Homo sapiens: one gene and its partners. The protein of the gene in region 6 purifies or fractionates together with the protein of the main gene of each other region. This does not show direct contact. Each region holds a gene or a part of one and is shown on either strand. Other genes may lie near its edges.

Region 1 (3,500 bases), on a different chromosome or scaffold from region 6:
AATCAAACCAAACCAAAAAACAAACAAACAACAACAAACCAGTGTGATCACATTTGTGAATTCCAGGAATAGAGAATTCTAAATAAAAGCTTCCAGAGAGAAAAGTGACTGAGAGTCAGACTGGCATCAGCAACCCCAGAATATTAGAAGAACAAAAAGCAGTAACTTCAAAGTTCCACAGAAAAAAGACTCTTAATTTGGAAATACATAGCCAACCAACCAGTCAAGCACAAGAAAACATAGGTTCACTAAGAAAATTTGTCACCTACATTTCCCATATATTTTATTTTTTAATTACAAAGATTCACTCAAGTAAAATTGGGAGGAGGAGAAAGAATCAACTGAGAGGTCAATATTGGAAACAAGAAACAGGAATCTGAGTATCTCTGAATAGACTAGTGAGAGATAATGGACCAGGGTAGTAGGGGTGGTCAGAGGTCAAATTCTGCATCTAGTTTGAAAGCAGAGCTGATAGGTTCGGATCACATGAGGTGAGACAGAGAGAGAGGAATTAAGGATGGCTCCAAGGTGTTTTGGTCTTACCAACTAGAATAGAGCTGTCATTTGATTAGATGGGGAAGGCTGATGGAGGAACAGGTTTGGAGCATGCTGAATTGAGATTCTAGCAGACTTCCCTACAAGTAGAGATGTTAAAGAGGCAATGGATATACAAGTCAGGAGTTCAGAGGAGAAATTCAGGCTAGAGATAGGAGTCAGTGATATACAGGTAGTATTTGAAACCAGGAACTAGATGGATGAGATCATCAAAAGAATGCAGATGATTAAATAAATGTTAACAGACAGAGAGAAAAGGGGAGATAACTGAGCCCTGGAGCTCTCCCAACATTTGGCGGCTTACAGGTTCAATCAGCCAAGGAGATTGAGAGGTAACCAGTGAGATATGAGGAAAAAAATGGCATACGATCAAGTTAAGAAAATGCTTCACAGAGAACAGACTAACTGTACCACGTAATGCTGACTGGTGAAGTAGAATGAGACTAAGAACTAACTACTGGATTTGGTAACATGGAAATCTTTGGTAATTTTGATAAGAAAACTTCATATGTAGGAATAAAAACCTTAGTAAACAGGGCTCAAAAATGAATGAACACCAGTGGTGTAGACAACTTCTTCAAGGGGTTTCGCTATAAAGGGAAGGATAGAAATGGGGTAATCATTAGAAAAGAGGAAATTCAGTTCAAGTACAGTGGGGTTTTTTGGTTGTTCTTAAGGTAGAAGAAATAACTGCCTATCTGTAAGCAGACAGAAAGATACGTTAGGGAAGGAAAAACTGAGGAGAGTAGAGAACTGCTGGAGCAATGTTCTTGAATCACCAAGAGGGGACAAATGCTGCACAAGTGGAAGGGTGGTCTTAGACAGAAATAAGAACAGTTTATCCATATTGATCAGAAAAAAACATAGAAGTCTGGGGAACAGATGCAGGTAACTGGGTATGTGAGGGGTAAGTTTATCAAAATTATCTTTCGTTTGCTGTTCTTTTCTCAGTTAACTGCTATAGAAAGCACGGTTAAGGGGCTGAAAGTGAATATGGGGGAGGTGTTGGAGGCTTGAGGAAAATGAATGGAATAGCCATGTAGAAAAGTGAAATGGATTATGGAAGTATAGTGTGACTGCTAGGAAGTGACCATGACTGCGGAGGCTAGCGAACATAAATTTAGAGTGAGGCTGGTCAGCACATCTGTGTTGATATAATCAGGGTTGTGATTTCTTGTATAAGACAGCAAGAGGGGAATGGGGTGGGGGCTGAGGGAATGTGTACTGACTGTCGTGGTTGCTCATGGAGTTGAAGCAGGATAAAGAAGGAAGTAAAGTTATGAGGGGAATGAGAGGACAGTGAAAGGCAGTAAGATGACAGTAGACTACAGTAGGTGTGAATGACTGACTGAGTTGGGCTACTAGAGAGACTGAGCACCTAGACAGAGAGGGAGATCGTGGTGGGAAATAACATGGGACAGCTATTCTCTATTAAGCACCAACATTAAACTAGTTACTTCTTTTATATCACCTCATTTAATTATCAGAATGACTCTGAAAGATGGGCATTATTATCCATCCCTATTGAAAAGATGAAGAAGTTAAAGCTAAGGTTAAATAACTTGTCCAAGACCAAAAAGCTGCTAAGTATTCCAACTGGCATTTTGGGTCGCATTTTCTTCCAGAAAAAAACAAACAAACAAAAAACCCTACAAAACTAGAATAAGGCCCTTGGGAATAAATTATTTTACAGACCAACTCACACTTTGTCCACTAAAAAACTTACTTCAAGCCAGACACTGTGGCTCACACCTGTAATCCCAGCACTTTGGGAGGCCAAGGCAGGCAGATCACTTGAGCCCAGGAGTTAGAGACCGACCTGGGCAGCATGGCAAAACCCTGTATCTACAAAAAACAGAAAATTAGCTGGGTGTGGTGGTGTGTGCCTGTGGTCCCAGCTACTTGGGAGGCTGAGGCAGGAGGATTACCTGAGCCCAGGGAGGTCAAGGCTGTGATCGTGCCACTGCACTCCAGCCTGGGCAACAGAGTGAGACTCTTGTCTCAAAACAACAACAACAAAATTTACTTCAATGGTATCTAGTTTTTAAAACAGCTAATTAATATATTATTTTATAGCATCATGAGAGAAAGACAAATTGTTTCTATAGCAAGCATCTTCTAGCACGGAATAATTAAATTCAAGTTAAACTATCTGTAGTTACTGCTATTATTACTGTGGCACTGAGTTAAATACAAAACTCCTGCTATGTATCATGCACAGATAAGATTTCTTTTTTCTTCCTACTTCCTTCCTTCTACTATTTTTTTTCTTCAGTTTTATGCTGTTTTCTTTACTTCCGACTTAGAAAATCATGGCTTACCTTACTTACCCCTACTAGAAAATGAACAGTTTCTGGCACCTGACTTCAGACTCCCAGAATTACCAAGTATTTCTGCGGACTATGTAACAATAATAAACTGTTTCCAAGGCTCCAAGTACTGGCAACATCACTAAATAGGGCAACAAAAAGAAACTGTGGCTTGAAGTTTCACTAGATCTTTGTCATTTTAGATAGTAATTTTGTGAATTGCTAGATTTAGATCCCCAAGTAATGCAAGAAATCAAATAAAGCACCCCGCAAGTATTTTATCCATCACACAAAGCTCTTCCACTCTCTCCAATAAGGTAATAGTTTATGACTATGTGACTAACATCAAGAAGTAGATAAATTATGCCAATGAGCCAGACTTAGCAGATGATTAAAGAAATCTGTTAACAATTTACTTGTTTTTCTATTCTTCCACCAATCTCTTGATTTTAAGAACAACTTATTTTAAAGGCAAGTGGCTTATATAATCGTTCTTCATAAAGTCTCTTTTCCCAGTGCAGTAGCAACCTGGTTTCCATTTGAATGATTATCCAGGTAAGCTAACTAAATGTAAGAATTTATTTTTTATAAGAATTTCATTCATTTTAGCCTATTTAGGCATCCTACTCACTTATA
Region 2 (2,673 bases), on a different chromosome or scaffold from region 6:
AAAGCACTGCCTCAGATGGCCTAGCAGGAAACTACCGCAGCATGCACACCCTGAACGAGTGGGCCTTGGTGTCTCTTCAACGGCAGCCTGTACTACGGCTCAGACATTGCCGGGGTCCCCCCGCCGCCCCCAATAGGAGGTTCTGGGTCTGACATCCGCTCAGGCTGGCAAAATACGGCCACCCAGTGACCCAAGGTTGGCAAGGGAAGCTCCCACCAGGTGTGTGCTTTGGGGACACCTGCGTGACACCAAGACCAGAGACTGAGGCGCATTAGAGGCCAACGAAGAGGGCACCTCCTTGATGCGCAGGCTTTCGGAGTCCTCCAGGCTCTGTCTGCATCTTCTCTTCTCCATGTCCAGGCGCTCTGGAAGCCCAGGGTGGGCAGAGTATGCGTGAGCATCCCCTGGGGGCCCCCGTCCCCCGGTGCCCATCCCCAGGCCCCTCCACAGCAGGCCTGCCCGTGCCCACCCTCGGCCTGGATGGCCCGCATCTTCAGCTCAGCTGACATGCTGGTCATCTCCTGCCTGGTCTGGAACAGCTGCTCCTGCTGACACCTGAACTTCCGCTCCAACTCGTCTACCTGAAAGCCGGCACCAGGGAGGGAAGCTGCAGCCCAGCCCTGCCGCGCCCACCCTGGGCTCCCTGGCTCCATCCACCACAGCTACCTGGTTTTGCAGAAGCAGGTTCTTTTCATTGGCAGCAGACAAGTCTCTGAGGAGTTTAGACTCCCGCTCTGCAGCTTCCTGGGAGGGGAACGGGGTATGGGTAGTGAGGGTCACGAAGCCGCCACGCACCCCTTGGCCCACCCCTCTCAAGCCCTGCCCACCCACCTGCTGCTCCAGCTTGAGCTCCTTGGCCTGCCTCTGTGACAGGCTCAGCTGCTCCTGCTCCGCTGTGGCCAGGAGCTCCCCCAGGTCCTGGGCCTTCTGCTCCGACAGAGCCAGGGCGGCCTCTGTCATCTGCAGCCTGCAGAAAGGAGGGGCAGCACCCCCGCCCCGGTTGGAGTTTCACTTGCCTTATAAAGGCCTCGCTGCTTTCACTGTTGCTGGGCACCTAGTCAACCCCAGCCAGCACCCGCCTCCTCCAGGAAGGCTTCTGGGTTACTGCCCCAGCCTCACCATTTCCCACCTCTGCTTTGCAAACAGGACTTGCACACAGGTTCACACCACCTTTCTCTGCCCTGTGGGCACGTCTCTGAAGTATCCTGAGGCCACCCCCCACTTACTTGGCCTTGAGAGCGTTGATGATGGAGTGCCTCTCATTCAGGGCTTCCTGAAGCTGCCCTACACGGGCTGCCGACGCCCTGTGGGCAGAGAGGAGGGTGCAGAGAGTAACCCAAACCCCAGAGCGCTCCCATACCCCTCTGGCCTCGGTAGCTGCTGCTGTTCCTTAAGCATCTATGGTCGCCTGGGCACTGAGCCTCCAGCGACCTCCTCGTGGCCTCACTCGTGGGCTCAGGTTGGTCCCATCTGAGTCTGAGCCAGGACCTGATCCCTGAAGCCTCACCCTGCCCCTGCCCTGGGCCCGCTCACCTGCTGCTCTTGGCCATCTCTTCTCGCTGCTTATCAATAGTCTCCATCAAGTCGAGGAACTGGGGACAGAGACAGCCGCAGCCCTGTCAGGGCACCTGCAGCCTGTCCACCTGACCTTCTCAGGGGGAAGGAGAGCCAGCGCCCACCAATGTGGCAAGGCAGCGGAGGGTTCCACCCACGGTGCCCTGTCTCCTTCACAGGAAGGGTGGCCCCTGCAGAGCGAGGCCTCAGGGCTCAGACGCCAGCTCCCCAAGGAAGTCCACCTGCAGATCAGACCAGGAGGCCGCCCCTCCTTCCTGGTACCAGCCACTCAGAGAGGCTCCAGGGCCCCGAGGAAGGGAAGATGGGCAGACCACGGGGCTGAGGGAGGAAGGACGTGGCCAGGCCCTCCAGCCATAAGCAGCTCCAAGGTCAGTGAAGGCGCCATCCTCACCTGCTTGGACTTCTCCTCCCGGAGGTGCTGGACCTCCTTGCTGAGGACGTGAGTGCGGGCTTGGTTCTCCTGGAAGGTGGTGAGCCGGTCCTGGCTGTGGCCCATGGCTTGCTCTGCAGAAGGAGCTGTGTCAGCTGGGCACAGGGGCTCATGCCTGGAATCCCAGCACTTTGGGAGGTCGAGGTGGGTGGATCACCTGAGGTCAGGGGTTCGAGACCAGCCTGGCCAACATGGTGAAACCCCATCTGTACTAAAAATACAAAAAAGTAGCTGGGCATGGTAGCGCACACCTGTAATCCCAGGTACTCGGGAGGCTGAGGCAGGAAAATCGCTTGAACCGGGAGGTGGAGGTTGCAGTGAGCCGAGATTGCGCCACTGCACTCCAGCCTGGGTGACTGAGTGAAACTCAGTCACACACACACACACACACACACACACACACACACAAAGGAGCTGTGTCACCCCGGGGCTGCTTAGCCTCAGGAGTAGCTGGTGGCCACCAGCCCTGCACCCAGCGGCTGGCTGCTTGGGAATCTATGCCGTGTGGGGCAGCGTCTCACCCGGCAAGTCAGGGGTGCCCCCTCAGTGCATGGGGGTGGAAGTGCTTTGTGGGGTTCGGGCTGTGAGCAAGAGCCGCCTGGTGTTGGGGAGCGCGTGCACATGTGGGGCAGAGGTGGTGGGAGCTGCTCCACCGCAAAAGGCAAGGG
Region 3 (2,590 bases), on a different chromosome or scaffold from region 6:
ATTTCTGAGTAGAATCCTACAGATACTAACTCGACTTTTTCTGCTTCAATACTCTACCAGTGACACACTTGCACACACAAAACTATTCATTTCTGATGCTATGGTGGAGAGGGCTGCGAAACTGCCCCTCACACCTCCATGGCCCTTCTTCAAGAAGGGGAGGATCCACTCACACCTGAAAGCCACTTGGGATGTCTCAGAGGCCATTTTCATGTTGACAGTAACTTGTGAAGCAATTAATTATGTGTGGGAAGCAGATTTGCAGGGCAAGAGTTCTTAGCTAGCCCTCAGCTAACTCCTGAAGTTCAAGCTAGCTTTCGGCAAAAGCCCAAGACAAGGAATCATATCATCTACTACAACATTCTCACACGCCAAAACCAGTTTGCCTTCAAACTCATTTTACAGAACAGATGATTCTAAAGATCTATAAATTTTAATTGTATGTCACTGAATTCCTAACAGCACTTAACAGTTTCTTTGAAAAATTTCTTAACAGAACGTCAGAGTATTGCAACACTTTATTAAGAGTATTGGCTTTGAATCAGTAGCTGAAGTAACAATTGCATGAAGCCAGATTAGGTGCACTGCATAATACCCATACTCGATTTATTGACATTACTTAGCAATTTACTGGACAAAAGTCAAACTTTTTTGTTTTTTATTAAGCACATTCCACAGTACAAAGCTGTCATGAATAATATCTGTACAATTTAACAGTTTCAATAGCTGTTCAGACACAAATTTATTTCAAACAGATAATTGGCAAACATAATTAATTACAAGTTAGAATTAGACTATCCCAGTGCTTTAAAACATTAATATAGCAGTAATTTACATTTGCTCAGTTATGGTTAGCAAAATAAAGTCCAGAGTATGGCTGGGAATTACTATTATAATCCCAGAAAGTCAGAACTCCTTGGGTGCCAAAGTCCCCTGCTATAATTTAGTAGGCACAATTCAAAGGTTGTCTGCATATTCAAAGGCCATCATCTCCCAAGGAACGAGGGGAACTTCTATATTAAACATGCAAAAACAACAAAAAATCCATTCATTCATTCAGAATTGCCTCCTCCCCTGCCCCCTCCCTTCCCCCTGGGCTTTCCTAACCAGTTTGATATTGAAGCTGTAGGATGAAAAGTGGTCAAAGCTAAATCACTTTCACAACCACCATCAAGCTTACAACATCCACCTTATGAATGGAGGTTTATTGTTTACACTTTGAGACTCAACCTCTCAAAAACATAAATTAATTTAGTAACATGGGAAGGAAGGATTTTATTTTTAAAAGAAAAACTAAAAAAGCAAAGCCAACTCAATAAACAAATCACATACACACACACTGATCCCCACACCGTTCTCAATGCAAAGGACAAATCAGAGCCCAGGGCCTTCCCTTTAGTAGTAGAGTGTGCTTCCACGGGAAGAGGTTTACTTTATAGGAGGCTGTTTATTGGTCCTTTAAAATGTTATTGACATTCCTTGATCTTTGGAAACAATGGCGAAGGGCAAATCAAACCTAATATTGAATAAGGGAGAAGGAGTGCCAATTGGATGCCAACGTCCTTTCCATGCACTGTCAGGGCAACAGTGCCATTTACACATTTGGGCTGTGTCGTAGGGAGGACTTGGGAGCTTTGAGAACCTGCTGGGGCCACAGCAGCAGCTGACACCAGAGATGACTGGGGTGGCATTCATGGGCTTGAGGCTTCACTCCACTTCAGAGCACCCACCCCTCAGCATGGGCCTCTGAACCAGCCTGACCTGCCCTGCAGGCTCCAACACACCAGCAGGCCCTGCCAGAACCTTGGCAAGGCCAGGATGCATGAATTCCAGAGCCAAGACAGCCCGTCAACAGGGCCTTCTTATTTCCCCTTCCCAGGGCCACGACTGCACAGAATAATGATTTTTGACAGCGAAGCCAAATGAATACTATGGGAGGTGACCACTTGTACTCAGGAGTACTTATGAGAAAAAGAATAAGAACAAAAAATGTTTAAGGTACCTCTCTATTGTATAATATATACTCCACAACAAATAAAACATTTTGGTGTTAAACCTTAGAAATTACATTTTAAAACAAGATTCTCATTAAAAACACACACAAACCACACACACGCAATGACAACAACAAAATAAAAACACTGTATGAATACTGCAGGAAGGGTTCTAGGTAATCCACATCAACCCAGGTATCAGGTTCTTGAGCCCAGCCCATGGCTAAGTGCGAACACACTCTGTATTAGTGTCTCAAGCACAGGGGGCCCTGACTCCAGCAACTTTGAGGTTAAACTGTTATGTACATTATATCTACATGCGAATACAGTATTTTAAATTAGGAGGCAAGCACACGTATAAAGGTGTTACTCTACCAAATATCAGGAGATGGTTGGGGGACAGAGAACAGTTAATAAAAGAAAGAGCTATATTACCTGTTGGTAGATAATATAACTGACTTATAGTTCTTTAAATTAAAAGAAATTGGTACAGAAAGGAAGTATAATCCCAAAAATATTACTAAAACAATCCAGAGAAAATTTTCCACTGTCCAACATGTTCCTAATACAACAAGTCAGAATTCATAATGACTTGG
Region 4 (3,500 bases), on a different chromosome or scaffold from region 6:
GAGGTGAGGAGTTCGAGACCAGCCTAGCCAACATGGTGAAACCCCATCTCTACTAAAAATACAAAAATTAGCCAGGTGTGGTGGGGTGTGCCTGTAATCCCACCTACTTGGGACGCTGAGGCAGGAGAATTGCTTGAACCAAGGAGGCGGAGGGTGCAGTGAGCCGAGACTGAGCCACTGTACTCCAGCCTGGGCAACTAAGCGAGACTTTGTCTCAAGAAAAAAACAAACAAAAAAACCAAACTTCCATCTCTATAAAAACTTACTCATTTCCATTGGCTTAGTGATGAAAATGTTTTTTTCAAAAAAGAATGTGTATATTTATATCTCTAATAGAACTACTTCTTTTCACTACACTTCTGAAGAATGTATCTTTTGATGTTGTCCAAAAACTAAATTCTCATTGTCCCTGAAAGTCGCACACGCATTCTTTTTAACATTTTAATTTTTTATTTGGAAAACACTAAAACAAACAAAAAAACCAACAACAAAAGGAGTCACTGCCTTAAATCTCTCCACTTTTATTAAATTACATTAAGAAGTGAAATTCTCTCACAGGCCCTCAACTCATAGCAACTAACTTCAGGGGTAACTAGGATTAGCAGTTTGGTACATATCTTTTGATATGCCCTCCTTAAAAGGGCAAAATGTACTGCTCATTGACTTTTTACCCATACCTAGAACATTCTGAAGCTCTGAGCACTACTTGTCTAAATAATTCAGACTTACTGCTTGCAAATCATGATCCTGTTCCAACTGGTACATCAATTCATTCTTGAGGTCCATGCTTATTTGCTCTGGAGTAGCCTGTAAAACAAAAAGCCAACATAGTCAAACAAAAGCACATAATTCAGCTTCAAAATAAATCCATTTTTTACCTAGACATACTAATCAAATATAGTCTCAAGAGTAAAACACAAGACTCTGATCTCAAAAACAATATTGCACTCACAAAAGCCAGAGGCCCCTCATCAATGTTGCTACTAGTCCAAGGATTCCAGTTGGATTGTGGAGGTGACCAAGGAACCACACCCACTTGGTTTTGTCGCTGAGATGGTTCGAACTGAGCCAATTTGCCAATGTTGAGTGCAACTGGCACAGAAGGATCTTCAGGCTATTAAAAAATAAGAAAAACAAACAAAAAATATGATTTGCTTGTCTACGGAGAGTTCTACGTAAATGTGAACTAAACAGCTTTATGCTTACCGGGGGCAAAATCTCAAGATTTAGCTCTTGAATGATGTTTTGCAGCTGATGCTCTAAATCTTGAGAGAGGTTTACTTTGTAAGGCTCCACCTATGGAAAAAGGATCACACATTAACAACACTACTCAAATCTACTATAATGGGGCTAAGACTATACAGTCAACACTAGGTCTACAATATTCCTAAACCAATAGTCAGTTCCCTTTTGTGAGAGAATTACTTCAATGATTATTTACTCACTGCCTATTATGAACATCATGCCAGACACAGAGATGATTAGCAGGGCCATTTTCATTTCCTGAGGTAAGATTCTTAAAATTAAACTTCTTCAGCCAAACACTAAACAAGAGCTAAATTGAATCTCACACTATCTCACAAGTCTATTAAATCTAAAGACTCACTGTCTCTCCTTCCTTCTTCTTTGTAAGTCCGGAGTAAGCTTCAACCACTCCAAGATGGTACAGTTGTCTGACAAGTGACAGGGCACAGGACTGTGCTGCCAATTTCTTATTTGATCCATGTTCTCGTGCAAAAATCCCTATAATGTAAGGTCAGGATTATCAGACAGAAAGAAATCATCTGAGTAAAGAAACATCTTATCACAAGAAACTATGGGCTTACGTACACAAGAAGCCCTAAAATACAGGGTATGCCATGGCTTCTAGTTCCTTTTTATTCTATTAATATCTGCTAAACAAAAGAAATTGCCAAACAGCTTATCAACTAAATAACCAACAGTTTTGATTACTGGCTGATACTAGGACTCATACAAATCAATATTATGAAAGCAAATAACCTATTTCAACAAAGTTGTCACTGTTAATATCAGACATTAAAATGGGGAAGAAAACATAGTTTGAAAAGACAAAGAGTAAAAAATAAACCAGTAAAAGTAATTGGGTCCAGAGTGGTTACCTAGACCAGGATTTGGGAAACTTTTTCTATAAACGGTCAATTAATAAATATTTTAGGCTTTGCAGGCCATATAGTATCTTGTCACAACTACTCAACTCTGCCTTTAATGTGTGAAAGCAGTCACTGACAACAGAGTTTGATAAACCATAGGACTGGGAATGGCTTTACGTTTTTCAAGAGTTGTAAAAATAAAATGAGAATAACAATGTGTGACCTGTAAAGTCTAAAATGTGAGTGTAGCTATGTTACAATAAAACAGTTCTTATAAAAACAGGCAGTACGCTGGATCTGGCCAGAGGGCTATAGTTTGCTGACCTTAGCATTAAACTAAAGCTAAGTTACTCATATCCTTATAGAAAATATTAACAGAAAGTTTCCTCTCCTCCTGTATCATTCATCCTTAGGAGAGATGAATATAAAGCAAAGGGGTACAAAGGTATCTTTCTGCCTAACTAGCCAAATTAACCTCGATAAGGTAAGTGAGCTGACAGAAGTTAGCCTGCCTTTATCCTCTCTCCCTTAGTATTATCCATCCACTCAAAATAACTCATTGTATATATAAAAATGAAAAAATGTTTAAGACCAGGCACAGTGGCTCACGCCTGTAATCCCAGCACTTTGGGAGGCTGAGCCAGGCAGATCACTAGGTCAGGAGATAGAGACCATCTGCTAACATGGTGAAACCCCGTCTCCACTAAAAACAAAAAATAATCAGCCGGGCTTGGTGGCAGCACCTGTAGTCCCAGCTACTGGGGAGGCTGAGGCAGGAGAATGGCGTGAACCTGGGAGGCGGAGCTTGCAGTGAGCCGAGATCACACCACTGCACTCCAGCCTGGGCGACAGAGCAAGACTCCGTCTCAAAAAACAAAAAAGGTTTAAAATTAATTGACACTGGCAGACTCCTAATCATCCCACTGTGTCTTACCTTTGAAAGATTACACTAACATGGTCTGTTTTCACATGCAAACTGGGAGACTTTGCCTCTAATTTATATAATTACTAATATTCTAAAATATACCCTAGATGCTATCTTACATTATGTGCTCTTTCAAATAATACAGCTTCTGTATACGTGACTCAAGACTTAAAATGTGAAGATTCCTTCTCTATACAGAGACTTGGAATATTGGGGAAACAGTAACACTTACTTCTGCCCAGCTGCTTGATATAAATGGTCATTTCTGCAATAAAGCTCCTGTAACAACATATACAAGCAAGGTTAGAAATTTCACTGTTAGAAACCAGCAAATCCAGGTCTCCCAAGTCAGGCAGGCTTTCCAACTGCTTAGGCAAATCACAGAAAAAAAAAATTACCAACATTTATTTCTGCCCAACCCTAGAACAAATGAAGTATATAAACTTCAAATAATATACAACATG
Region 5 (3,500 bases), on a different chromosome or scaffold from region 6:
TAAAGGAGTGATGTCATAAAAGAAATGCAAATTAAACTTTACAAACTTTAAAAATAAAAAAATACAATGATAAAAGGAAGAAACACACACATTATTTGTATTCAGAATCTATTTAGCCTACTCTAGTAATCTAATGACTCAGCTAAATCCTAGTAATATCATTCTTATTAAAATACCATTCCAAAATCTAAAACATAAAATTTCAATTTTCATAATTTAGGAAAAAGAACCACAGGTTGATACTATTTATTTCAAGATAGTAACACTTGCAAACTCTTCATAGGTCCAGGAAATTAAAACACCTCATCCATGGAGTCTAGTGACCCCCTCCAACAGTCTGGGCTGGCTTGTTACTACTATTCATAAATGTGCTCTACCTCAGAGGATGAATGATGTACTTCAGACCTGTGAAGTCAACCCTCCAGCAATAAACCCTCTAGTATACTTTCCTGCACTAACCAGTAAAACACCAACATGGTAAATTCATCCTTTCAAGAAAGTTAATTGATTCCAGAGACAACTGAGAAATGCCAAATGACTGGCGCATAAAAGTACCGTTTCTAAATCACAGATCCTAAACTCCATAATGCAGATTGACCATCACCTCTACAAATACTGCAGTGGGTCAAGTTCAACTCTTTTACACTGTCCCCTAAGATGCCTAGAAACAATGTGTGATAAAGCCAGGTGTAACAAGAGGAAAGGTGGCTAAATGCAGCCCATTTCCTGAAGCAGTCACCCATTTTATGCCCTCAACACATCTCCTAAGTTAAGAAGCATAAAAGGTTTACTCAAAGATAAAAGCTCTGCACCAGGTGGCCAAGCTGACACCAGTGATTTTGGAATTAACTCTAGGGGGACTTTAAAACTTCTGCTTCCTACCATCTTTCTGCCATCACACTTCCTTGCCTGTAACTGGTGATTCATATCCATTTATCAAATATTTTCTGAGCATGTACTACACACCAAGCATCGCTCTAAGAGCTGGATAACAGGCAAGGTCTTCATCAGATTTACTTCTAGAGAAAACATAAAAATAAGCAAAAATAGGGCCAGGCATAGTGGCTAATGCCTGTAATCCCAGCACTTTGGGAGGCCAGGGCGGGTGGATCACGAGGTCAGGAGTCCGAGACCAGCCTGGCCAACATAGTGAAACCCTGTCTCTACTAAAAATACAAAAATTAGCTGGGCATGGCGTGCCTGTAATCCCAGCTACTTGGGAGGCTGAGGCAGGACAATCACTTGAACCTGGGAGGTGGAGGTTGCAGTCAGCTGAGATTGTGTCACTGCACTCCAGGTTGGGCAACAGAGTGAGACTTCATCTCAAAAAAAAGCGAAAAGGAAATAAACGATGAACTATATGGAGACATTTAGATAATTTAAGAATATTTTTATCTGAACTGTGATTCATTTAAATGCCTGTTTTATTTAGAAAATTCTGCCTATAAATCTACTGGAAAGTAGTCTAAGTTTTCAAATCCTAAAATCTCTCTTCTTCATGTTACGCGATATTTGACATTTATTCCTATGGTGTAGTGCTTATTAAGGTTGGAATGTGTAATATGTGTTAATTAGTTTCTTCCTATTCATATAAATTTCAGAAAACTAAAATGAAGAACAATGTCGATCTAAACATGTTAGACATAGGAGGAAGTATACCTGCGTGTATTTTGATTCAGAAAATTAAGTTGTAGTTTTGATTACTTTCTTCCTGGTGTACTTGGACATCTCTATCGCAAACATTTATATGACTTTACAAAGGCATAAAGCTTATAATTCTTTGATTTGCTCATACCAAGATTTCCTTACCTTGGCACTACTGGTATTTTAGGCCACATTATTCTTTGCTATGGGGGCTGTTCTGTGCACTGTAGAATGTTTGGCAGCATCCTTGGCCTCCACCCAATAGATGCCTTCAGTTAACATCCTCCCCCAGCTGTGACAACCAAAAATGCCTCCAGGCACTGCCAAATGTCCCCTGCCAAATGTCTCAACTGTCAACCCTACTTGAGAGCCACTCACAGGTCTTCACTGAGTAAACATATTGTTCTACAGTATTAAAGAAAGTTCCAAACAAGAAAAAAAGGATTTAAATGAACCTCCTCAACCCAGAGGCTATAGGCTCCCTGAAGGTTTCCTTCCTTTCCTGTTCTGTTCACTCCTCCAGGCCTGGGCATTAACAGGTGCTCAAACATTTGCTGAAAGGAGAATCAATCACCATTGGGAACCAGTCAGAAAAGAGAGTATGAGAAATTTAAGATTAAAAAAACAAAACAAAACTTAAGTAATGGCCATTGATCCAGATTTTGAAATAATTTAATTTGTCTGGCTATATAATGGAATGCAGCAAATATTCTGATTAGAGTTGAGTGCCTATGCTAAGCATAATGGGGTACAAGAGGAGTAAAACAGTCCCTGGCCTCAAGGAGCCTACGGGTGGCTGGGGGAGGTAAATATGCAGTTATGCAGGTAGGTGCAATACAACAGACTAGAATGTCCACTGCAAACATACACCATGCTGTGTGTGTATTCCCAGTCCACTTTTTCAAATATCAAGAGATTCCATGAAGAAGGCTGGCATTTGACATGGGCTTTGAAGTGTAAGTAAAATTTTGATGAGCAAAAGTAGGACACAGTACAGTAGTTAAACAAGAGGGAATGACATAAGCAGAAACTGGATATTTCTTGGGGAAATAGTGACCAGTTGGGTTGGGAACATTTTAAAAAGTACAGTAGAGGGATTGTGAAACATTAAGTAAGGTCAAATGAGTTCAGGTCGCAGGAAGGTCTACAAGTCTGAATAAGGAATTTGGACTTAATGGTTTTGTTCAAGTCCCAACAGGAGAGTGACCTCCCTGAAGATGTGGCCGTCTACCCTGCCAAAGCTGTGCAAGATTAGTTCCACTGGGGCGCGGGGGTAGGTGCAGAGGCCATTCTTACTGCTACCCACAGTAATACAAAAGTGTAATGACATGGAATTTACCTATAGTATATGCCTTGCATTCTATTTTTCATTCTATTTTACTCCGTTATTTTTAAGTAATGGCAAACATCCAATAATTTGGTTTCACAACCCACTGAAGGGTTTGCAAAGCATTTCTTCGACCTTTTGGATAAATATGGTGAATTCAAATGTTGGGGGTACTGGAAAAAAGGAAGAGTATAACAGTTAAGTAGGAGACTACTGAGCCAGAATTGGCCTGGTGTGTCATTATTCTAGGGACTGGGAGGATGGGATGCTGGAATACCAAGCATGACTCTATGGTGGTAGAGGGTGTAACTCTGAAGTGAATGATCATGAAGTTCAAGCTAGTTACAGCTAAAAAGGAAGCCAACAGAATGGGAAAAGAGAAATGGCGGAAGGCAAGCAGGGGACAGACGGTGGGAGCGGCAAGGAGTGACAGGGACACAGCGTTCAGAAGTGTTAAAGGTGGGGTCACTTTTCTCACTAATTATACGGTCCAAGCTCTGGAGTATCTAAAGTGCAATTAGAAATTCAC
Region 6 (3,500 bases):
CTTGGATTTTCAACTGTGTGGGGGATTGGCACCCCTAACCCCTGTGGTAGTCGGGGTCAACTGTTATTTTTGTTTACAACTAAGGAAACCGAGGCTTAGAGAGGTTGAGTAGCAGCAGTGGAAACAGAGCCCAGATCTGATATGACATGACTCTAAAACTCTTCTCAAGGCCCCCACCCCTATGTTAGGTTACCATGACAATTCAAACTCAAAGAAAGCATAGATGCCTCCTCTATTGCTTTTGCATTTGTTCACAGCCAGGCTCAATACCAAATGGGTGCCCTTCTAGTGTTTGTGAGGGAGGAAATTGATATTTTGATGAGAGCATGGGCTCTGCAGTCAGGGAAACCTAGGTTTAAGTGCCAGATCTTCTCACCATTAGCTGTACGACTTTAGACAAGTTACTTGACCTAACTAAACTCCAATTCCCAAGTGAACAACCATGAAAAGCAATATCAATTTAGAGGGTGATTGTATTGATCAAATGAAATAACACATGTGGAGTGCCAGGCCCATAGCTAAAGCTCAACAGAAGGTGGACATTATCTGACATATTCCTGCTTGTTGATCCACAGATGGAGAGGGGAAGCAGATAGGGCCAGGGTCAAAGCCCCTGTCCCCAGTGGCTTCTTCTTATGAGTCACCTTCAAGAACTTCAGTTTCCTCTGTGGGAGGAGACACTTCTTAGTTGAGTTTTTGATAAACTGACATAGACATACACATAATTTTGGAGTCCCTTTTTGTATTTGTTGCTGTAAAGATCTGAGCAAGCTAGTTTAGATACCACTGTTAAATTGGCAGGCTGATGTATTGGTTGGTTTGTTCTTTCTGAACATTTCCTTTGAAAGGTTACATATATTCATGCTCTGAAACTCTCATTCTGCAATATCCTCTGAAAAAAACTCACACAATGCCTGAGCTTTGCTGGGAAAAACAAACAATGGCCTGTACTTAGGAGTAAAAATCAAAAGAACCACATCTGCCTAGAATCTGAGTTTCATGAAAATTAATTTGGACTGAGGCTCCTGGATGGCAAAGAGCACACCGTTTGCTGGCTTTATTTAGTTTCTTCACAGTGAATAATGCAGGTGATGGAGTGTCCATTAGCAGCTTCTAATAACAGTTTACTCTCCACTATGTGGTATTTAATCAAGCTTTAATTGGATACAGCCTGCTCTACAAGGAGTAAGACACTTTGTACACATGCATTGACCCTGGTCACTCTACAGTGAGGTTCAGTCTTGGGTGGCCCTCCTGACTGGTTACTGCTCAAAAGCCCCTACCATTAAAAAGTATGAGCAGGAAGAGCTATTCTCCAAAAGTTTTGGTGGGAGTGGGAGGGGTAGGTGTTGAAGTTTCTCTGGGTCTCAGAGACCCCAGGGCAGGAACTCAACTGAGAGCAGGGCCCAGGGTGCACTAAGAAAATTCATAGAGTGGCAAAGTAAAGGATTTTTTAAAATGCAAACATTGTGCCTAATTTATTTCTTATTTTGAAAGAGAACTGACAAATATATGCATGACTCACCTGCCTAATCATTTGCATGCAAAGCCTGGCTTGCCTTAGTTTTGTAAACTTAAAAATTGTCTTTAATGGCCTCCCTTACTTTTTTTTCTTTGCACGTTTCTTGAAGGTTCTTCCCTAATGTCTGCCTGTGTCTGTGTGGCTATGGGTCAGTTCCTCCTCCTGCATTTATATCATGACCTCTCTGTAGCCCTAGAAGATGTTTTCTCCTGCCTCCGGGGCCTCATGACCTCTACCCTGAGTGTTTAGTACAAGGCTCCACCCATGACAATTTTTGTGGACAGGACTCTATTAGGAGCTGCAGGAAACAGACAAGGAGTAATCCATCATCAAGTCTAACAAACAGGTATGTATGAAATATTCCTCAGGTGTCCCCCAAAGAGAGTTACTGCTGCTCATGTTCTCTGTGTTAGCCCTCTTATCAATTAGTTGCTGTAACCTCATCAATATGGATTACAAGAGATGATTGATAGATAGACAGACGATATAGAAGACAGATAGATGATAGCTAGATATAGGGGGTCACAGAATAGCAAAAATCACAATCTCTGCTTGCAAAAAGGCAGAAGGAATCAGTTAACCCTATAAAATCCTCAACAGTCTGGACTTCTGTTCTCTTAACATCACCCTTCTACATCTATTCAAGTGCAGACATTTCTCAGTGTGGACATGGCCCCACAGTTGGCTTGGTGAGGAGATGAGCCCTTTGTCAAAGGAAAAGGACCCATCTCCCTTCAATCCAGTGCTGGACTGGCTTTTAGACTCCATTTATCCCCTTTCTCCGGTGCTTTTGTGCTCAACCTGCACAACTTTATGCTGGAATCCTAAAAGGCAGCAACTTACGCTCTTGTTCCAGGTGACAGCTAATCTCAATCAAACATCTCCTCTCTTTTATTTTCCTCATTAGGAAAAAAAAAAAGAAGGGAGGTTGAATCTGAAATTCTTTGCAGTGCCAGAAAGCTGCGGTTCTTCAAATGTGTACTGAGCACTTGTTATGTGTAAGGCATTCTGCAAGATTCACTGGTGGAGACAGCTGGCATCAATAAAAAAAGATGGTGCCTCCAAGTTCCAGTTTGACTGTCATTTTCAACACTTCCTGGGTCCTTTTATTTTTTATTTTTAAGAGGTCACATTCTTTCTGTGCAGCCAAATACAACTGTCCAGCTGAATCACCATGAATATTCTTCCTGCAGTCTGTAGTCACCACCAGCAACCACTTAAACTTCCAGATTCAATTTTCCAATCTACAAAATGCTACCTGTCATGGTGGGGCATATGCCAACTTACTAGGGGCTATTGGCCAACATAGGGCATTAGGCTGGCTCAAGGAAGTGTGTGGGCACACACAGCAGCAGTCTTCCCTTCTCCTCCATGCAAAGGATTTTCAAGGGGGTCTAAGCTATTGATATTAAGATTCCGAGCAGCCGTAGGCTGCAGAGCTCCATGCCCAATCTGGACCCCAAGTCACTAAAACTGCATCAACTCAAGGTTGCACTGAGGTCACCGTCCGGATCCATGTTTTTATTCCAGAAGGATGATGGAAAGTTTGTTCAACGAACTATGACAGGACTCTGGCTGGTAAATTACAGAATGATTAATCAGAACTAAATGCACAGCAGGGAGCAATAGACTCTAAATTGGGAAAACTTCTCCTGTAGCTTCAAGTTTGTAAGTGAGACATCCAGATTTTTAAAAATGGTTTTGAGTGGAATTTTTTCTTTTTGGTTTGAGTGGTTCTTACAGAAATCTAGTCATTCTCATTAATGGTCATTTTTGTTTTTAAACAAATCAGGCCAGCTCAACCTCATTTGAGCCTCCAGTGCATCCATCAGGGTCAGCTGATGCCCGTAGGATCTGAAGTTAGTGATCATTTTTAGGTCCTCACTCTTTCAGAGAGCAGGTCCTGTGCCACACAAGAGGAGGCATGAGGGTCACAGGCATGGGAACATATTATGAGCCTATGAAGCCCCCTGACCCC
Region 7 (4,116 bases), on a different chromosome or scaffold from region 6:
AAGAAAAAAATGAAGTCTCAATTAGCCAAATGTGATTAATTCAGGCCATCCAGGGGTTAGGGTACATAATGAAAAGTTCAAGTTATGGATTTTGAGGCAGAAATGGAAGTACTTATTTGAATGATAATGCAATACCAAACTAACCTAAACAGTCCAAGCAGGCTTTTTTCCTTTATCAAAGGAAGTTATTGTAACAAACAGCAAATACCTGCACATCAATAAGAATTCTTTAGCTTCTGATTAAAATGTTACTTTTGAGATTTCATTCCTTTCTTGGTTCTATTTTACCAATGTTCCAAGCCCTATTAATCTCACCAAATGTAAACTTTAATCCTAGCTAGAATTATTGCAAGTTTCTGAATTATAGTCATTCTATTCAAAGGAGCTTTTATTGTACCTTGAAACCGAACCACACTATTCCAATTCTTTTCTACACCTTCCATTTACCCTGTCCCCTGCCTCTGTGCCATTTGCGGTCATAATCCCAGAATTTCTTATATAGTAAAACTGAAGACACAGTGGCCTTTGTTGGGAAGAAATAGCCAATCAATACCATCACAGGAGCTTAGAGGACAGGGAAATATGGAAAAAATACATACACTAGAACAAAGAAAAACCATCTCTGTGACTTATCACATGCACTTACAATGAAAAAAATACTAACAAAACAGGAATTTTCAAGTGGGACCTCACAGCTGCTGAGCAAATTAAGTGTTTTTTGTTTAGTGCTAAGCCATCCATGAAAGCCAAAACTGATGTTGTCTATGAGGTGACCTTTGATTGCAGGTAGCCAAGACTGATGTGTTGGTGTTGCAGGAAAAAAAAAATCAAAGCAGTTAATTGCCTAGAGATTCATAACTGGGACACGAGACAGGAGAGACATAATTTCTGAGATGGGAAGAACTCGAGATCAGCACCGTGGACAGCGCCCCGACCTTTCACGTTTTGCCAACCGGCGAACGCTTTCTTAAGGAGGAAATGTCAGCTGGTGGACAAGGGAATCGTGTGTGTGTGTGTGTGTGTGTGTGTGTGTGCTGGTGGACAAGGGAATCGTGTGTGTGTGTGTGTTGGGGAGGTGGGTAGAGCAGGGTGGTTACTACTAGCTCAAGCATCGCTCAGCTTGTTGGCTCCCAATCTCTACTTTTTGGAGCGCGAAAGTCAAGAAAATGGGATAGGACTCTTCCCAGTTCAGGATCGCATTCTTCCTTCAGCCCTGAAGCAGACCATACTCCATAAATAACTTCTAGGGCGCACAGAAAGCTTTTCAAAGTCAACCAAACAAGCCAGATAGCCGAGACAGCACCGCCCACGTAACCTGCCCCGTTGGGCTCAGTCTTACTTTGGGTGGGGCACTGTTCTCCGGGTCGCCGGTGTGTGTAGGCCCGCTTGCTGACAGACAGGCAGAGTTGGGTTTTCGAACCTCAAATAAATTTAAGGGCTTCTTTGTTTGAAGGGCTGGGGCAGGGACATAAATGAGGGGCGTTCCCTAAAATTAACATTAAAGACTCCAGGGTTTTTTGTTAACCAGCGCCTCCAGCCGCGGCTCTTCTCTCCTCTCTTTTGCCCTCCCCTTAAGTCCTGGGGCCCAGTTTTACCAGAGGAAGAGGGTACGCGCGGAAGAGGGCAGGGCACCCCTCCCCACGCCCAGCCCCGGCCCTTACCTGGTAGCCAGCTACCTCGGCACTGTGCCGCTCCTCCAGCTCCAGGATCTGCCTCTCCAAGGACTCGTTGGCCCCGCGCAGGCCCTCGATCTCGATGGTGCGCGCCTGCAGCTGGCGCCGATACTCGTGGATCTCCTCGCGGCTGGCCCGGATGGCCTCGGTGCTGCGCGCCGCCTGCTCGTTCAGGTTGGCAAACTTGGACTTGTACCATTCTTCCGCGGACTGCAGGTTCTTAGCGGCCAGGGACTCATACTGGGCGCGGATCTCCCTCAGAGCCGAGGTCAGGTCTGGTTTAGCCACAGTCACGTCCACCTCGGCCGCGGCCTGCGACGACGCCTGCAGCGTGGCCAGCAGCTCGGCTACCTCCTCGTCGTGCACCTGGCGTACGAAGGCCAGCTCGTCCAGCAGCGACTCCACCTTCTTCTCCAGGTCCAGGCGGGCCAGCGTGGCGCCGTCCACGTCGCGCTGCTGCGCCTTCAGGGCGCGCTCGGCGCCTTCGCGTCCGCGGCTCTCCTCCTCGCAGCGCGCCCGCAGCCGCTGCACCTCCTCCGCCAGCCCGTCGCGCTCCAGCAGGGCCTGCGAGCGAGCCGAGCTGGCCTCCTCCAGCTGCGCGCGCAGGTCGCGCAGCTCGCGCTGGAAGAGCTCGCCGACGCGCGACGGCTCAGCGTGGCGCTGTCGCAGCGCGGCCAGCTCGGCCTCCAACGCGCGGTTCTGCGTCTCCAGCTGATGCACCTTCTCGATGAACACGGCGAAGCGGTCGTTGAGGCCCTGCAGCTGCTCCTTCTCGTTGGTGCGGATGATCTTGTACTCGTTGGTGCGCGCCGCCGCCTGGCTCAGGTCCAGCCCGTCGGACGCCGGCGGCCGGCGATAGGCCAGGCCGAGGCCGAGCGACGAGGCCGAGGAGCAGGCGGCCGAGGAGGCCACATTGCTGCGGGACAGCGACTGCGAGCGGAAGCCGCCCGCGCCGCCGGCCCCAGAGAGGCGGGCGGACAGGCGAGAGCCATCCCCGAACACCTTGCGGTAGGAGGAGGAGGAGCACAGGTAGTGCTCCGAGCCGAAGCTCATGGTGCCGGGATCGGGGCCGGACGTGCGGCTTCAACGCGAGCTACAGAAGAAAGGAGAGGTGCGGCAGGCAGGGCGCGGCGGGGCGGTGCGCCCGGCTTTTAAGGCGCCGGGGCTGGGGCGGCGCGCTGGGGGCGGAGCTCCTGCTCAGAGTCTGGCCGGGAGAGGGAAGGGGGGCATCCAGGAGTGGGGGCGGGGAGGCGCAGTGACTACCGCAGCTGCGCGCGCGACGACCTGGGGCGCCGGGACAGGGCCATCTGCATCGGAGTCGCCCCTTTCCGCAGCGCTTCTCCCCAAGAATCGACTGCTTCGGAAGTGACTCGAGCGGAGGGGTGCCTAAACGACTGAGGTTTCCCATCCGGAAACCACACAGCTCTGTCGCATCCCTTGACCCTATCCCCTCTTCTTTAACCGACTGGGAGGTTAGGGGTTTCTGGGAGGTGTCCCCTACACCCACCCTCATCCTGAGGTGAGGCGCACAGAAAGCCTTCCCGAGGGCGAGGTCGTGTTTTTCCAGTTACAGTGAGGACCTGCAGAGCGAGCCCTTGTCCCCTTCCTCAGGGTCCCCAAGGAGAAAGGTGGGAGATGCTACGTCAGAAAGCATCTCTCCAGCTGCCCCTCTGCAGCTCCTGGGGAGGCTCCGGGCGGAAAGATGTTCAGCAAGTGCCTCTCCCAGAAGAGAGGGGAGATCAGTAAAGAAAGTGACCCCGAGCTGCGGAGAGTGGGGAGAAGCGGCGGTACAGAGGGGAAAAGAGGCCAGACTTGGAGAAGCAGGAGGCGCTGGGAATTGCTGGGGCTCATCGTTAGGGCACTAAAGCATGGCACAGGCCAGGACCACAAGCTGCTGGAAAGGGGGCTGCAGACTTTTGTGTTTAGAGCATTATATTTTAAAATATTTCGAAAGGAGCATTTTTAAACCAGGAGATTTCACCTGTAAAGAAATTGGATTTCTGGCTTCTTCTGAAAATGGGAAGAGCTGGGATGCCCACAGTGGCAGAGGTGAGTTGCCCTTGCCATTTGTATAAGAAGTGTGCTCTCCTGTTCACTACAGTCCCTGCCATTCTCCACTGAATTACGCCCCCCTTCTTAATTCATTTACTTTACCTCTCTGACCCTGTGGGCATTTGAGATTTCAGTTTGTGTAAATCCAGCAGGGCAGGTTCTCAACTGGCTTCAGAGAGCCACTCCCTGTGCAGATCTCTTTTTGGAGAAAAGAGATCCCTGCAAAAAGATTAAACTCCAGGAGTGGGGGAGAGTGCTGGTGACTGAGCCGGCCTCTTCTGCCACATGGTAGGGTTGGTGGGGCAGGGGGTGAGAATCAAAGAATGGAATCTGAAAAGATGAAGGCTGGGAGGGGTCAGTGTGGCGTCTGTAATATGTACCCACTTGCAAG

What was found.
Region 1: the proteins of PRMT8 (region 6) and LSM14A purify together in Homo sapiens (affinity purification with mass spectrometry; 4 studies listed by BioGRID and IntAct, with this or other methods). This does not show direct contact.
Region 2: the proteins of PRMT8 (region 6) and LRRC45 purify together in Homo sapiens (co-immunoprecipitation; 2 studies listed by BioGRID and IntAct, with this or other methods). This does not show direct contact.
Region 3: the proteins of PRMT8 (region 6) and FBXW11 purify together in Homo sapiens (affinity purification with mass spectrometry; 3 studies listed by BioGRID and IntAct, with this or other methods). This does not show direct contact.
Region 4: the proteins of PRMT8 (region 6) and DHX9 purify together in Homo sapiens (affinity purification with mass spectrometry; 3 studies listed by BioGRID and IntAct, with this or other methods). This does not show direct contact.
Region 5: the proteins of PRMT8 (region 6) and FAM120A purify together in Homo sapiens (affinity purification with mass spectrometry; 3 studies listed by BioGRID and IntAct, with this or other methods). This does not show direct contact.
Region 7: the proteins of PRMT8 (region 6) and INA purify together in Homo sapiens (affinity purification with mass spectrometry; 3 studies listed by BioGRID and IntAct, with this or other methods). This does not show direct contact.

Annotation. Positions count from the first base shown.
Region 1 is NC_000019.10:34,179,004-34,182,503, reverse strand, and holds part of LSM14A (protein LSM14 homolog A), read right to left. Parts: intron 1-3,500. UniProt on the Homo sapiens protein: Essential for formation of P-bodies, cytoplasmic structures that provide storage sites for translationally inactive mRNAs and protect them from degradation. Acts as a repressor of mRNA translation. May play a role in mitotic spindle assembly.
Region 2 is NC_000017.11:82,026,305-82,028,977, reverse strand, and holds part of LRRC45 (leucine-rich repeat-containing protein 45), read right to left. Parts: intron 2,080-2,673; coding exon 1,967-2,079; intron 1,593-1,966; coding exon 1,534-1,592; intron 1,305-1,533; coding exon 1,227-1,304; intron 968-1,226; coding exon 832-967; intron 745-831; coding exon 667-744; intron 582-666; coding exon 470-581; intron 366-469; coding exon 295-365; intron 1-294. UniProt on the Homo sapiens protein: Component of the proteinaceous fiber-like linker between two centrioles, required for centrosome cohesion.
Region 3 is NC_000005.10:171,861,049-171,863,638, forward strand, and holds the end of FBXW11 (F-box/WD repeat-containing protein 11), read right to left. Parts: 3' UTR 501-2,590; downstream 1-500.
Region 4 is NC_000001.11:182,856,347-182,859,846, reverse strand, and holds part of DHX9 (ATP-dependent RNA helicase A), read right to left. Parts: intron 3,316-3,500; coding exon 3,269-3,315; intron 1,744-3,268; coding exon 1,607-1,743; intron 1,297-1,606; coding exon 1,207-1,296; intron 1,115-1,206; coding exon 953-1,114; intron 808-952; coding exon 730-807; intron 1-729. UniProt on the Homo sapiens protein: Multifunctional ATP-dependent nucleic acid helicase that unwinds DNA and RNA in a 3' to 5' direction and that plays important roles in many processes, such as DNA replication, transcriptional activation, post-transcriptional RNA regulation, mRNA translation and RNA-mediated gene silencing.
Region 5 is NC_000009.12:93,458,185-93,461,684, reverse strand, and holds part of FAM120A (constitutive coactivator of PPAR-gamma-like protein 1), read right to left. Parts: intron 1-3,500. UniProt on the Homo sapiens protein: Component of the oxidative stress-induced survival signaling. May regulate the activation of SRC family protein kinases. May act as a scaffolding protein enabling SRC family protein kinases to phosphorylate and activate PI3-kinase.
Region 6 is NC_000012.12:3,564,203-3,567,702, reverse strand, and holds part of PRMT8 (protein arginine N-methyltransferase 8), read right to left. Parts: intron 1-3,500. UniProt on the Homo sapiens protein: S-adenosyl-L-methionine-dependent and membrane-associated arginine methyltransferase that can both catalyze the formation of omega-N monomethylarginine (MMA) and asymmetrical dimethylarginine (aDMA) in proteins such as NIFK, myelin basic protein, histone H4, H2A and H2A/H2B dimer.
Region 7 is NC_000010.11:103,275,822-103,279,937, reverse strand, and holds the start of INA (alpha-internexin), read right to left. Parts: upstream 2,801-4,116; 5' UTR 2,727-2,800; coding exon 1,662-2,726; intron 1-1,661. UniProt on the Homo sapiens protein: Class-IV neuronal intermediate filament that is able to self-assemble. It is involved in the morphogenesis of neurons.